Linked DNA regions of Homo sapiens. The protein of the gene in region 2 interacts with the protein of the main gene of each other region in a pairwise test. Each region holds a gene or a part of one and is shown on either strand. Other genes may lie near its edges.

Region 1 (3,530 bases), on a different chromosome or scaffold from region 2:
ACTCTCTTTTTGAGACAGGGTCTCACTCTGTCACCCAGGCTGGAGTGCAGCGGCACAATCATGGCTTACTGCAGCCTCTACCTCCTGGACTCAAGCAATCCTCTGGCTTCAGCCTCCTGAGTAGCTGGAACAACAGATGAGCACAACCATGCCCAGCTAATTTTTATTTTTTGTAGAGACCGGATTGCCATGTTGCCCAGGCTGGTCTCAAACCTCTGGGCTCAAACAATCCTCCTGCCTTAGCCTCCCAAAATGCTGAGATTACAGGAATGAGTCACTGCACTCAGCCCAGGACTATTTGTTTTCATATTCCTCCTCACACCCAGTTTAGTGTCTGGCATGTAGATGCTCAGTGAATGATTGATTTGGGTAGTTTTGGTTCTTTATACGGGTCTTCAGGTTAGTCCCAATGTACTGGCATGGAGCTAGTTACTTGAGCAGGTCTTCACAAAGGTCTGAGTAGCAGGTGATAAAAGGGGTTGTGAAGTCTGGACTCCTAACTTAAGTGGTGGAGATGCTAAAAGAGAAACAAAGGCAGCAGAGTTGCTGAGGGTAGGGAGTATGGCATTTATTAACCCTGTGTTTCCCCCGTCACTGGTCACTGCTCTTGACTCGTAGAACAACAGGTACAGAACTGCAAGGGATCATCCCCAGCTCCGTGATCACCAGATCCACAAGCTCTGGGGGAGTCACATCATAGACTAGATTCAACAACCGTAGGGATGCGTGGTTCTGCCAGTTAGCCAGCGCAACATGTTCTCCCCGCTTACATTGCAGATCATCAGGGTCATCTGCAATGGAAGGCGTACCCATTATGTTCTTTCAGAAAAGAAGTTCTAGTTTATCCGCCCCTCTCCCTCCCTCTCAAGTCTTCACAGGTAGCTGGAGGCTTCTCTTTTGCCTCCTTACCTAGCTCATTAGAGACAAAGGCATCAGTCTGCACACGCTCACAGAACTTGTATGTTTCACAGCAAACCAGCACTGGTACATTATGGGCTCGAGCCACCAGGGCTAACTGTGCTGTCCCTACCCGTGACATCACAGACCCGTTGGCCAAGAGTGCATGAGCTCCCAATAGCACCTTGGAAACCTGTTTCACAGGAGAAGAGGAAGAAAAAAATGTCATTGTTGTATCAATGCAAAATAAGGTCCCCTACTTACAGGACAGCAACATTAAGACAAGTAATAAATCTCAACACCTGTGAAAAGAAGGGAAAGAAACAAAAACAGACAACAAGTAATAAATCTTTTTTTTTTTTTTCTTTGAGATGAAGTTCTGCTCTTGTTGCCCAGGCTGGAGTGCAATGGCGCGATCTCGGCTCACCACAACCTCTGCCTCCTGGGTTCAAGTGATTCTCCTGCCTCAGCCTCCCGAGTAGCTGGGATTACAGGCATGCACCACCACTCCCAGCTGATTTGTTGTATTTTTATATTTTTAGTAGAGACGGGGTTTCTCCACGTTGGTCAGGCTGGTCTCGAACTCCCAACCTCAGGTGATCTGCCCGCCTCAGCCACCCAAAGTGCCAGGATAACAGGCGTGAGCCACTGAGTCCGGCAATTAATAAATCCTTTTTTTTTTTTTTTTTGAGATGGAGTCTCGCTCTGTCGCCCAGGCTGGAGTGCAGTGGCATGATCTCGGCTCACTGCAAGCTCTGCCTCCTGGGTTCACGCCATTCTCCTGACTCAGCCTCCAGATTAGCTGGGACTACAGGCGCCCACCACCACGCCCGGCTAATTTTTTGTATTTTTAGTAGAGACGGGGTTTCACTGTGTTAGCCAGGATGATTGTGAACTCCTGACCTCGTGAACTGCCCTCCTCGGCCTCCCAAAGTGCTGGAATTACAGGCTTGAGCCACTGTGCCCGGCCTAATAAATCTTAATGATGGCTTTTCTTCTGTGAAAACACCTGACCACTGACCCACCAAATCTCCCACAGGAAAAGTAAACTTTGAAGTTACTTTTGTCTTGTTCCCTCTTCCTGGTTGCTAGTTTAATGTAATGTTTTTGCAATAGCTAGACTGCTGTAATATACTGTCAGTGTTTTTCCAATTAAATAGAAACAGAGCTATATAATTATTTTTTTTGACACAGGGTTTCATTCTGTCACCCAGGCTGGAGTGCAGTGGTGCAATGACAGCTCACTGTAGCCTCAACCTCCTGGGCTCAAGCAGTCCTCTCACCTCAGCCTCCTAAGTAGCTGGAACTACATGCGCATGCCACCATGCCCGGGTGTGTGTGTGTGTGTGTGTGTTCAAGCAGTCCTCTCACCTCAGCCTCCTAAGTAGCTGTGTGTGTGTGTGTGTGTGTGCGTGCGCGCGCGCACGCACTCAAGCAGTCCTCTCACCTCAGCCTAAGTAGCTGGAACTACATGCGCATGCCACCATGCCCGGGGTGGGGGTGGGGTGGGGTGTGTGTGTGTGTGTGTGTGTGTGTGTGTGTGTGTGTGTGTGTGTACAGGGTCTCATTATGTTGAGCAGGCTGGTCTTGAACTCCTGGGCTCAAGTGATCCTCCTGCCTTAGTGCTGAGATTGCAGGCATTGAGCCATGGCACCAAGCCAGGGCTATATAATTCTAATATTTTTAAATAATTGTGGCTGGGCACAGTGGCTCATGCCTATGATCCCAGTACTTTGGGAGGCCGAGACAGGGGGAACTGCTTGAGCCCAGGAGTTCCAGCCTGGGCAATGTAGCGATATCCCATCTCTACAAGAAAAATAAAAAACTAGCTGGGCATGGTGGCACACACCAGTAGTCCCAGCTACTCAGAGGCGGAGGTGGGAAGATCACCTGAGCCCAGGAGGTCAAGACTGCAGTGAGCTGTGATCACGTCGCTGCACTCCATCCTTATCTCAAAACAAAAACAAAACTGTAACTTTGGGAAGGTGAGATTATGTCTATACTACTACACCTTTTCACCGCCAACTTTGGAGTCCTTTTCCTCTGTACTTACCTCTGGGAGCACATAGGAGGCTGCAGGAATCAGCAGGTAGGAGGCTGGGACACCAGCATGGACTAGAGAACGTAGTGTGTGCCTTCCTTCCAGCCATGGCCGGCTGTCCACCACTACCACCCGAAACCGCCGGCCCTCTGTCCAAGCCTCCTGAAGAATTCGTGATACCAGAGATGAGCTAGAGTGAATGAAGAGGAGGATTCAGTTATAAATGTCAGTAACTGATGACTAACTTATTCCCAAAGGCAAGTGGGTAGTCCCTTCTTCAGATCATTCCAACTCCCAATCTGCTCAGTCACAAGGTCTGGACCATACCATCCATATACCAGGATCACATCTCCATTACTGATCTTCTGGTAAGCAAAGCGTGAAATTGCCTGAGCTGCTAGCACAATCTTCTCTTGCACATACCGATCAATGGCTGCTCGAAGTTCTGACTTGGCCTAAATGGAGTAAAATCCTTAGTGAACAAGAAATGGACACTTTTATCCCTCTGATGATCATGCCAGGTGCTTGAATATGTGTATGATGACAAGCCTATAGAGGGCTCAGAGATGGCACAAGTCAGAATGGCCAAACC
Region 2 (7,043 bases):
CTTACATCCATGCCTCCCACCCTGTGCACACTTGGAACCCAGGTCAGGCACAGACACAGGCTCACACATACCTCCCCCACCCTGATGCGGTCATTGCTCAATTTTTGCAGGTTCAGCTCGGTGTGCAGAATGGCGGGCAGCTCAGCCTGGGCGAGCAGGTCCTGCAGGTCATAAGATCCTTGCAGCACCAGTTGGGGCATGGTCAGGTGGATGGTCCTGGGGAGATGATGCACAGTTAGGAAGGCTCCAGGCCACACAGTGAGGGCTCTCCCAGAGGCCAGGCAGGCTTATGCTCCTTGCACCCAACCCTGACGACAGGGATGTTTGCTCCCCCCATCACCCAACTAAGTCATCCTCCCCCTTGGGGAAAATTTCAGCAAAACCTACAATAAAAATCCTTCATGTCATTTGCAATACTATGTGAGGGACATAGAAGATTTACCGATGAGGACCTAGGAATGGTTGTCCTTTGGTGCATTCTGTTTTTAGGTTGGCTGCATTGAAGGTGTGTTACTTGGGTAATTTTTAAATGCTATTCTCTGAAATAATGCACTGTGTCTTACTACTGCCACAGCAGTGTTCTTGATGACATGACACCCATGAAAAGGAGAGAGGCAGGAGGGTACAGTGTCAACCTCGTGCTGGACACGTTGCTATGTCAACTCGATTGATCTTCGTATAGAGCCTCTTCCATCTTTTGGCATCCTTCAGAGCCCATGGACATTTCCAGTGATGTATCAAGCACTTATAAGAGCTGACAGTACACCCATGTTTACAGGGTACACTGCACTATTCACAGCAGCTCAAAGGTGGAAGCAACCCACGTGTCCATCGATGGATGAGTGGATACACAAAAGGTGGTAACCACATGCAATGGAATATTATTCAGCCTTCAAAAGGAAGGACATTCTGACATGTGCTACAACATGGGTGAACCTCGAGGACATCGTGGTGGTTGCCGGGGCCAAGGGGAAGGGGAAATGGAGAGTTAGTGTTTCAGCAGGACAGAGCTTCAGTTTGGGAAGTTGAGAAGATAAATGGAGATGGACGGGGGTGATGGCTGCACAACAGTGTGAATGGGCCTAGTACCACTGAACTGTGCACTCGAAAATGGTTACGATGGCAAATTTTGTTACGTATATTTTACCATCACAATTTTTAAAACATAAAAAACACCCAGAGTTGATGTCAAGCCATCGTGTCACTCAATGCCTGCCTCTGGGAGCAGATTTCCAGGCCTCGATGATCTGGGGTGATGTGTAGTTTGAGTCCAGGGCTCTGTGGAAAGGAATTGCAGCAGGAAAGAGGAGCTAACAACACCTATCCCCACCCAGCCGCCAGCCGCCAGCAAGGGCGTTCTGGAGTCAAGGGACGCTCCCTGAGAAGGCCCCACCCCCGCTCACGCGAAGTCCGAACCCTCCTGGCAAGTCAGTTCCAAGAAGCTCTTGGATGTCACAGGTGTGCTGTGTGTCAGGTGTGGGACCAAAATGGTCCTCTCTCAGAGGGCGGATTGCAATGTTTTCTCCCCCTCCAAAACTACCAGGCAAGTGTAAGTGTAGAAAAAGCATTCTTCCTCTCCTCCTTTACCTTGCCTGCACTTGAAAGACAGACACTAACTGGAGAGCTGGGTGCTGGCTGGATAGAGGACTGGTAGACAGACACACAGGCCGCCTGCCCAGCCCCGTGCCACCGCGGCCCTGCCCTGCTCTGCACCCAAGGCTCAGCTCAGGTGTGTCTACTCCCCACCCCGCCCCCAGCCTGGGCAGGACAGTGTGGCTCCCACATTCCAGGGGAGACCGGGAGGCTCCTACCGGGGAGATAGTTTCTTCATCCAGTTGAGGGAGTTTTGCTGGAAAGTGAGACCCTCCACCTTGTCCAGGTCAGAGGCATAGTGAGGCTGGATCAGCAGCAGGCAGGCGCTCTCAGTGAAGGGCACTTGAGTCACCGAGAAGTTGTCCTGGATGTCACTCCAGTGCTGGAAGGTGCCCATGCCAGAGAGCATGGGAACAGACACTGAGGTGCTGTTGTCCACCCAGAACTCCTGGGGCTCGGCCAGCAGGGAGAAGCCCTTCATCTTCCCTGAAATCCAGACAGGAGACAGGGAGGGAAGAGTCACCCAAGACAGGGGCAGGAATGAGGGCTGGCAGACACCAAAGGCCCAGATCCTGCCCCTCGCCCTGCCTCAGCCTCCTTCCTTGGCCCCCCCCAGGCCACTCTGCATTCTCCTGGCCACAGGACCGCAAGTGTGGCTCAAATATTTCTCCTGTAAAATGCAGCCATTTGAGTTCACTGAGGCAGCCCTAACCGCCACCTGCAAGACACACAACATGCCAGGCACCAAACCGGGGGTTTTGCATCTGTCACCTTAAGGGACATAAGCCACTGGTACCTGCCAGGTCAACTCAAACCTAGAACTGTCCTGACCCAAAGGCTGTGGTTTGACACACTCACTTTTTAAAAAATTTAAGAGATGTTATTTTTTAGAGTGACTTTAGGTTCACAGCAAAATCGAGCAGAAAGTACAGAAAGTTCCCATATAACTCTTGTCCCCCACTACACAGCCTCCCCCGTGATCAACATCTCACACCAGCGTGGCCCATTTGTTGCAACTGACGAACCTACACTGACACGTCCTCAGCACTCAAAGTTGATAGTTTTCTTTGAGTCTCCCTCCTGGTGTTTTACATTCTGTAGGTTTGGACGCACGTAGAATGACATGTGGCCACCACCGCACTATCCCACCACTCCTAGAGGCCCCTGCTCATACTCACTTTTTAATCCATGTCTAGCCCCAGCCATGGCAGAGCCCACCAGCTGTCCTGTGGCCCCCACCCTCCCCCATCACAGTCATAGAATACAGAGTGGGCCACGCAGGCCCCGGAAACGAGGGCTCCATTCCTCAGCAGCCCTTGCTACTGGGGAGACTCACACAACCTCGTTGTGATGAATGGATTTGCACACTGGGCCTTGGGGGCAGGGGTGAGCCCTCTGTTTCCCCTCCTGCTCACAGGGCCGTGCAGATGACAGAGAACTCGGGAGAGCCCGTTGTGGGAGAAGGACACAAATTTGTGTGTGACGCAGTTACCTGGGGTCTTTCCATGACAGCAGCCCACCCTCTGCCTCGACCTTACACTAGCACATCCCTGCCCTCGGCTGTCCTCCCACTCATCCTGAAAGGCCTATTCTGCGGTTGTTCTTAGGAGAATAGGGTGAAGTTGTGTATAAGTTTGTCACAGAACAGTCCCCTGGGCACGTGGCACTTGGGAGTCTGAGTAGAGATGGTTCAGAAACAGTGAGGTCTCCCTTTGTACTGAATTGGAGGTCCCAGCATGAAAGTAGGGCAGCTGGGAGGACAGAACTGGCAGGCAGGAGCTGGGCATGGCTGTGCCTCCCCTGGGTCCGGGTCTCGTAAGAAGGCAGTGGCAGACCTGGCATATTTCTCGTCCTCAGTCCTCGGAGCACTCAGTCTCGGAAGGGCATGTGAGCGGGAAACTGCAGGGTTCCCCTTGCACGTTCCCTGCAGGGACCTCGGTGCTGCCCACCTGGGCTGGCAAGGCTTTTAGTTTAGAGGGGGGAAAGGGACAATTCTTTTCTTCCAACAAACTAAACTAAAAAAGGGAAGCTGCCTCCCAAAAGACGCTGGGATTTGACATGAGAGTGGCTGCCGTCTTCCCTCTGCTCGTCTGACATGCACAGCTCACCATTCTCATCCGGAGGCTAGGTAAATCTGTCGAGGTCAAGTCAGGACCTGGTGTCATGGAAACCACCAGGGCCAGCGCCCCATGCTCAGGAGCACAGCAAGCACTGGGCAGACGGTACCCTGGAGCCCATCAGGCCCCAGATCCTCAGGTCCTCTCTAGTGGGACACATCTAGCTGCCTGCTGAGGTCATGTAAATAGAACATCATTGCTAAAGGGAAACCTAGAGGTCCCGAGACAGCCCCCGATCTCCTCACTGGACAGACCATGTGGGCAGGAAGTGGCTGCCTCCTTTGACGGAAACTGAGGCCAGCAAAGTTAGGAAGTGGGGCAGGGTCAGGGCAGCATGCGGTGGAGGCCGGCGAGGATCCTGGGCTTCCTTTGAGTCCCGATGTGGTTGGCTTTTTTATTCTTCCTCCTCTTCCTCCTGGCCTGGCTCTGCGGTCTGGGTCAGGTGGATGTGCTCTCTTTCGAAGGGAGACCCATTTCAGATGCCACTGGCTTTCTTGCCTTTGCCTTCTGCAGGACCCTCCTTCTCAGTGAGCGCTCCTCCCAGCACTTCTCCTAGGGACAGCAGGCTAAGTCCATGTGTCCCTGCTCTGCCCTGCACAGTGTGCTGCCACCCTCAACCGGGCAACCCTCGGGCTGGCCTCTGCCCCTGTGACCAGTCAGTGCCAGGGCTGAGCAATCCCCCCATCTATCACCTCTCCCTGAACCCGAAGGGAAAGACCTCAAGGAGGTTGTTGTGGTAAGAAAAATCACTATGCGCCACTGAACCTCTTTCTCCACAGTCTTGTCTTTCACCTCCCGCCTGGCTCTCTGTCCCTCACGAGGTTAACATCTTGACAGAGCCTCCTCAGTGTCTCTTAGACACACCCCTCAGCCCCACCCCACCCATGGATTTGCCGAGCTGCTCCCTGAGCACGTGTTCCCGTGACTGTGTGCCTGGACTCTTGCGTAACCTTCAAACAATCCTCCCTGCCTCCAGTCTGCACACGGCAGGCTTCCGGGATGACCTCTGAACAGAACGCGTCCCCATTCCCACACCTACCAAGCATGGCGTTCAAAGTGTCTCCAGCTCTGCCCTCCCCAGGCCCATTTTCTGGTTCAACACTCATGCCAAGCCAACCGCCCCATCCTCGTTCCTTGCCCCAAACTCTGCAGGCTGGGCTCATCATGCTTGCTCCTAGCTTCACCAGCCCTGTTGCCCTCACTGCCAGGCAAGGCCTGCTCTCCGCTCCCCAGTGACCTCTGTCCTCTGAGAGCCCCGAGGCTTCCCTGAGTTACCTTGTGGAGCACGTTTCCCTGCAGCTCCAAATCCTAGGCATTTGCCCATTGACCTTTAAAAGCCTGGAGGCAGGGCCTATACAGCCCTCCTCTGGCCTCCTCTGAGATGCCAGGCTTAAAGTCTTACAAGTAGCAAATCCTCAACAAGTATTTGTTAAATGAATGCTTTAAGCAATCTGTGGCTGGGTGCAGTGGCTCACACCTTTAATCCCAACACTTTGGAAGGCAGAGGTGGGAGGATCGCTTGAGGCCAGGAGTTCAAGGCTACAGTGAGCAATGATGGCACCACTACACTGCAGCCTGGGTGACAGAACAAGACCCTGTCTCAATAAAAAAAAAAAAAAAAATCAACAATCTTTGTAGTAGAGGGTTTTCAGTAATGCCCCTCCTAACATGAAAGGGATTTAAGCAAGCCAATTGCTTATTTCTGCATGGGCCAGGGACCCCAGTTCCTGACCTTCTCAAGAGATATGAACCTGACCCTTCTGAGTGTAGAACTGGGCTGTGGGGCCAGGAGATGTGGGTTTCAATCCCAGGACCCCCACTGGTGGCTGTGCCATCTTGAGCAAGGCACTTTGTTTCTCCGAGTCTCTATTTCTTCACTGGTAAACAAAGGCACAAATACCTCTTCACCACATCATAAGGGGATTAAATGATGTAAGAAAAAGGATGTTGTATAGTCGTGCACATAGTAGGGCAGCAGGTCCAGGAGGTGGACGGCCCATCCAGGGACCCAGCGGAGCAGCCACTTCCCCACTTCTCAAGGGTGGTCACCAGGTATGTCCGCAGGGCTGCCCCCTGCCCATCTCCAAGGCCTGACTGGCTGATCTCAGCTACACATTGGATACTAAGTCCTAGGGCCAGAGCCAGCAGAGAGGTTTGCCTTACCTTGGAAGTGGACGTAGGTGTTGAAAGCCAGGGTGCTGTCCACACTGGCTCCCATCAGGGAGCAGCCAGTCTTCCATCCTGTCACAGCCTGCATGAACCTGTCAATCTTCTCAGCAGCAACATCCAGTTCTGTGAAGTCCAGAGAGCGTGGGAGGACCACAGGGGTATAGAGAGCCAGGCCCTGCACAAACGGCTGCTTCAGGTGCAGGCCTGGGGCTGTGAACACGCCCACCACCGTGGACAGCAGCAGCTGGGCCTGGCTATCAGCCCTGCCCTGGGCCACTAGCAGGCCCTGTACAGCCTGCAGGGCAGACAGGACCTTGTGCGCATCCAGCCGGGAGGTGCAGTTCTTGTCCTTCCAAGGAACACCCAGGATTGCCTGTAGCCTGTCAGCTGTGTGGTCCAAGGCTCCCAGATAGAGAGAGGCCAGGGTGCCAAAGACAGCCGTTGGGGAGAGGACGGTGGCCCCATGGACCACGCCCCATAGCTCACTGTGCATGCCATATATACGGAAGCCCAAGAAGTTGGCCAGCATCCCGACCATTGCGGCCCTCAACTTGTCTTCGGTGTCAAGTTTTGCAGCGACTAGCACCAGCTGGTCCTGTAGGGCCTTTTCATCCACAGGGGATGTCTTGGCCTGAATTGGAGCAGGTATGAAGGTGGGGTCTTTGGGCTTCCCGGCATTGGCCTTTGCCAGCTGCTCACAGGTACTCTCATTGTGGATGACGAGGTGGAAGGGGTGTATGTACACCCGGTCACCTGCAGCCAGGCCAGCCCAGGCCAGGAGGCAGAGGATGGTGGCCCTCAGGCTCACACCGGCAGGAGCCATCTCAGACTGGGGTGCTCGCTTCCGCATACCCTGAAATATCATTTTGCAAAGGGTGAAAGGTGGTTATTAACTGACCTTTAAGTGCCATCTAACCAGATCTTTCATTGTCTCAATATTCCCTGTCACCATTTAGCCCAGAATAAATCCATTCATGTCTACAAAAAAAAGAAGAAATGGATTCAAAGCTCCATGGAAAATATCTACATGATCCAAGTGCAAAATGCACCAATATCAGCTGAATTATGTCCTACCTCCCCCAACGGCCATAATGCCCGTGTTGAAGTCCTCAACCCCAGGACCTCAGAATGTGACCATTATTTGGAGACAGGATCTTTAAAGAG
Region 3 (5,122 bases), on a different chromosome or scaffold from region 2:
CATCATCTCGTTTGGCAAAATATGTGTTAGTAAAACTTTTCTCAGAATACTGAATGCATTGATCGACTTCCTCTGGCATTGGACACAGTGGTGGAGAAGGCTGAGGCCCTGATGGGTAATTTAGGCTCTATTCTCTGTTCCAAGATCCCACTGAAGGTCTTAGGCATGAATTCAGAACACCCAGCCAAGGGTGTATCCCACTCTGCTGAGCTTCATCTTGGTCCCTTAGCTCATCTTAGATGAGTGGGAAATGCCAGACCCTGGTGCTCCTTCCTCTTGTTGATGAAAACTCTCGTTGTCTAAAAGAGTTTCTACTTATACCTTGGCTGCTTTCCTTCAAATCTTAGTTAGAGAGGATTTTCCATATTTTGTCATCTCACGCTTCTTTATTCAGAACTGCTTGTAGAAAAATAAAGTAACCATTCTTGTGAGTTCTTTAAAGGTGCTAGCTGACCAGTTAGGAAATCCACAACCCTTCCAAGTAAATAGTGTGAAAGTAGCTCAAGAAGATCCAGAGAATTCCTGGAGTTTTGTTTTGAGAAAATGAGTTTTGCCTTCTTATTCATTCCCACTGTGGAAATTCTGAGTTTCATCAAGGATAATCTTTTGTAAGTTATAATTGTTTTCTAGGTATATGCTGGGAGATTTTCACTGTTGTCATTAAGAATAAAAGTGTTGCAATTTTCCCAGTTCAAGCATGGAAGAAAATTTATTCAGGAACTACAGACAGAGTAAATAATACTGTGCACAGACGAGTTAACAAATTAATTTTCCTAATATCCCTCAAACAATATCTGTGAAGATTATTTAGGGAGAAGTGAAAATAGACAAAACCCAATTATCCAACATCACATTAAGTTGCTTAACTTGCAAAGTTTTCAAAGAAATATTTTCACAGAATTAGAGAATGTTATCAAATATATAATGAAAAATATCTCAGTAGCCCAGTCCATTTTCCATCAGGTGAGCCTTCGACAAGATTTAAACATCTTTTTATCATTCTTCTGAAAGCAATCTATACCGATTATCTGGTATAGATTTTCTGCAAAGGAAAACTGGTCTCTCAGAGACTTGAGTCTCTTTAAGGCTTTAAAAAGGGCTTTCAGCAAGTATTTCCTTCTTGTAAAATAGTAGGATTCAGGGTAAATTACTTGCGACCTTAAATCATACTGGCAGCTTGTCATGCCTTCAGGGCTCAAGTAGAAGATCTTTGTCATGACACACACTTTTTTAGTGTAACCACCAATTTTTGCCAGCTTCTGCTTTAAGGTTAGGGCAGTTTGTGTAGAATAGCCTTTAAACTCCTCATCCTGTACCATGTGGAAGGTGTATAGGACTGGAGGACTGTCCTGGGAAATCAGAAGAGCATCACAGAGGACTTTGTGGTTCTCTTGCAAGCCCAGATCCACAGACCAGCTCCTAGAGAAGATCAGTGAGCCCTTTCTGACAGAGTCCATTTCTTCACATATTAATTGCTTAAGTCCTTCATGTTGTAAGAACAGTTTTCTGCAAAGGTTTTCTGGAGTATACGTTATCCTTCCTGATAGCCCTGAATAAGGAAATAATAATAATAAATTATAAAACACTAGGAAGTTCCCATTTAAGCCATGGCAAAGTAGCTTGTAAAAAACCAATCTTCCCATCAAAAACACTGTAAAAGTTGTATAAAATATATTCAAACAATAATTTAAAGAACTAGAAAGCACCAATAAAAGCAGTATTTGAAGTGCCACAGTCTTTGATAGAGGTGAAACACAGAAAGTAGCTTCACATTCACCCCTGCTTTTTCCCTAAGTAGATTTTCTATATCATGGCATGGGTAAATAGAACCCAAGGAGAAATCATCAGTCTTATTAGGCTGAGGAAAAGAAGTAAGAAGAGCTGGAATATGAGAAGTAAAATCTCAGAGAAAATGAAGCTGCAGAGAAGAAGCCAAAGTCTACATACAAATTTCCCTCAACTCATTGGCTAATACAGGTCAGATGCTGGAAACACAGAAGAAAATATCAACTGGGAGACTAAAGAGCTGAATGTAAGTTTCTTCAGCCTCATGGTGCTCAGGAAACACAGACTGGAATTCCAGTCCCAAAAGAGTGGAGGGATCTTGGTAAACACCAGCGACATTACAGCAATAGAAAAGCCATGACCTAGTAGTAACGGCAAAATTAAAAACTATTATACCTAGAAAAGGATAAAAAAACTTCAAAAGAATAAAAGCAATGGGTGGTACTCTAACTACCTGTCAGAAGTAAATATAGCCCTTTTTGGAGAAATGTAATATCTATCAAAGTCTCTACAATTTGTAATCCATGATACAATAAAAAATTACGAGACAGAATAAAAATCAGAATGAATTACTAGAAAACAGGAGAAAAATCAGATCAGAGAAAAAGACTGACAAGTGCTTCAGATATTGTAGTTATCAAAGAGGGACTTTAACTGTAATATATTTAAAAACAAAAAATAATAATAAAATAGATGAAAAGATGAAGATGTCCTTATTCTCTTACAGCCTTAGAAAAACTAAAATTGAGGGATAAAAATTGTGTGGGCATTCCTTAACTGAAAAATACAGTAGGTGGTAATAAGAACTTATTTGATAATATTTAACAGCAGACAGAGCATAGCAGAAAACAGGACTAGTCAATAGGAAGACAGGATGGTAGCAAAAGTCCGAACTCAAACTCAATAAAAAAAAAAAAGGTAAAAACAGAAGATAAGAGATATATCCGAAACTGTCAAAAGGTCTAGCAAATTTATAAGTCCCACAAAGAGAAAGGAGAGAAAAATAAGATAAGCAATATTTGAAGAGATAAACAATTATAGTTTTTTCAAAGTTGATTAAAGATATCACTCACAAATACAAGAGTATACCAATCCTTCTCAGACTCTTCCAAAAAAATTGAAGAGGAGGAAATACTTCCAAACTCATTTCATGAGGTCAACATTACCCTGATCATGAAGTCAGTCAAGGACACTACAAAAAAAAAGAAAGTTACAGGCCAATATCACTGTTGAAACTAGATGCAAAAATTCTCAACAAAATGCTAGCAAACCAAATTCAACAGCACATTAAAAGGATCATTCGGCCCAGTGTAGTGGCTCACGCCTGTAATCCCAGCACTTTGGGAGGCCAAGGCAGGTGGATCACCTGAGGTCAGGGGTGCAAGACCAACCTGGCCAACATGGTGACACCCCGTCTCTACTAAAAATACAGAAAATTAGCCAGAAATGGTGGCAGGCACCTGTAATCCCAGCTACTCGGGAGGCTGAAGTAAGAGAATCGCTTGAACCCGGGAGGTGGAGGTTGCAGGGTGCCAAGATAGCGCCATTGCACTCCAACCTGGGTAACAAGAGTGAAACCATGTCTCAAAAAAAAAAAAAAAGAAAAAAAAAGATCATTCATCATAATAAGTGGGATTTATCCTTGGGATGCAAGCATAGTATAACATGTGAAAATCAATAATTGTGATATACCACATTAATAAAATGAAGGGCAAAACTATATGCTCATATTAACGGATACAGAAAAAGCATTTTACAAAATTCAACATTCTGTAATTTAAAAAAACCTCTTAACCAACTAGGTATAGAAGGAATGTACCTCACCACAGCAAAGACCATATATAAAAAACCTAGAGCTAACTCCATGCTCAATGGTGAAACATTGAAAGCTTTTCATCTAAGATCAGGAACAAAACAAGGATGCCCATTTCACCACTTCTATCCAATATGGAAGTCCTAGCCAGAGCAATTAGGGAAGAAAAAAGAAATAAAAAGAATCCAAACTGGAAAATAAGAAATTAAATTGTCACGGTTTGCCCACAATGTGAACTTATATATAGAAAACCTTAAAGATGCCACCAAAAAATGATCAGAACAAATAAAAGAATTCAGTAAATTTTCAGAATACAAAAATCAGTAGCATTTCCATACACTAACAACAAATTATCCTATAAAGAAATCAAGAAAACACTCCCATTTACAATAGCTACAAAAAATACTTGATAATAAATGTTATCAAGGAGATGAAAGATTTCTATACTGATATCTATAAAATGCTGATGAAGGAAATTGGAAAAGACACAAATAAATGGAAAGATAGCTTGTGTTCATGGATTGAAAAAATCATATTTTTAAAATGTCCACACTACCCAAAGTGATCTACAGATTCAACGAAAACCCTATCAAAATTCCCATGTCATTTTTCACAGAAAAATGACTGTATACCTAGAAAACCCTAAAGACTCATCCAAAAAGCTTCTAGATTTGATAAATGAATTCCATTAAGTTTCAGGATACAAAACCAATGTACACAAATTAGTACTGCTATACAGCAAGAGTGACCAAGCTGAGAATCAAATCAAAACCTCAATCCCTCCGACAACAGCTGCAAAATAAAATAAAATACTTAGCAATATACCTAGACAAGGAGGTGAAAGATCTCTACAAGGAAAACCACAAAACACTGCTGAAAGAAATCATAGATGAAACAAACAAATGGAAACACATCCCATGTTCATGGATAGGTAGAATCAATATTGTGAAAATGACCATACTGACAAAAGCAATCTACATCAATGCAATTCCCATCAAAATACCATCATCATTCTTCGCAGAACTAGAAAAAATAACCCTAAAATTTATATGGCACCAAAAAAGAGTCCACATAGCAAAAGCAAGACTAAGCAAAAAGAACAAATCTGGAGGCATCACATTACCTGACTTCAAATTATGCTACAAAGCTATAGTTACCAAAACAGCATGGTTCTGATATAAAAATAGGCATGTAGACCAGTGGAATAGAATAGAGAACACTGAAAGAAAGTCTAATGCTTACAGTTCAATTGGATCTTCAACAAAACAAGCAAAAACAAAGTGGGGAAAGGACACCCCATGCAACAAATGGTGCTGGGATAATCGGCAAGCCACATGTAGAAGAATAAAACCAGATCCTCATCTCTCACCTTATACAAAAACCAACCCAACAGGAATCAAAGACTTAAATCTAAGACCTGAAACCATAAAAATTCTACAAGATAACATCAGAAAAACAATTCTAGACGTTGGCTTAGGCAAAGAGTTCATAACCAAGAACCCAAAAGCAAATGTAACAAAAACA

What was found. The genes of interacting proteins can lie anywhere in the genome.
Region 1: the proteins of AGT (region 2) and EIF2B4 interact in binary tests that used the Homo sapiens proteins (3 or more experiments, as listed by UniProt).
Region 3: the proteins of AGT (region 2) and SLFN12 interact in binary tests that used the Homo sapiens proteins (3 or more experiments, as listed by UniProt).

Annotation. Positions count from the first base shown.
Region 1 is NC_000002.12:27,363,809-27,367,338, forward strand, and holds the end of EIF2B4 (translation initiation factor eIF2B subunit delta), read right to left. Parts: intron 3,394-3,530; coding exon 3,266-3,393; intron 3,129-3,265; coding exon 2,951-3,128; intron 2,077-2,950; exon of another isoform or gene 1,269-2,076; intron 1,091-1,268; coding exon 910-1,090; intron 792-909; coding exon 592-791; 3' UTR 544-591; downstream 1-543. UniProt on the Homo sapiens protein: Acts as a component of the translation initiation factor 2B (eIF2B) complex, which catalyzes the exchange of GDP for GTP on eukaryotic initiation factor 2 (eIF2) gamma subunit.
Region 2 is NC_000001.11:230,704,122-230,711,164, forward strand, and holds part of AGT (angiotensinogen precursor), read right to left. Parts: intron 6,733-7,043; 5' UTR 6,703-6,732; coding exon 5,874-6,702; intron 2,080-5,873; coding exon 1,812-2,079; intron 217-1,811; coding exon 72-216; intron 1-71. UniProt on the Homo sapiens protein: Essential component of the renin-angiotensin system (RAS), a potent regulator of blood pressure, body fluid and electrolyte homeostasis.
Region 3 is NC_000017.11:35,410,379-35,415,500, forward strand, and holds the end of SLFN12 (ribonuclease SLFN12), read right to left. Parts: intron 1,550-5,122; coding exon 960-1,549; 3' UTR 544-959; downstream 1-543. UniProt on the Homo sapiens protein: Ribonuclease which is part of an E2/17beta-estradiol-induced pro-apoptotic signaling pathway.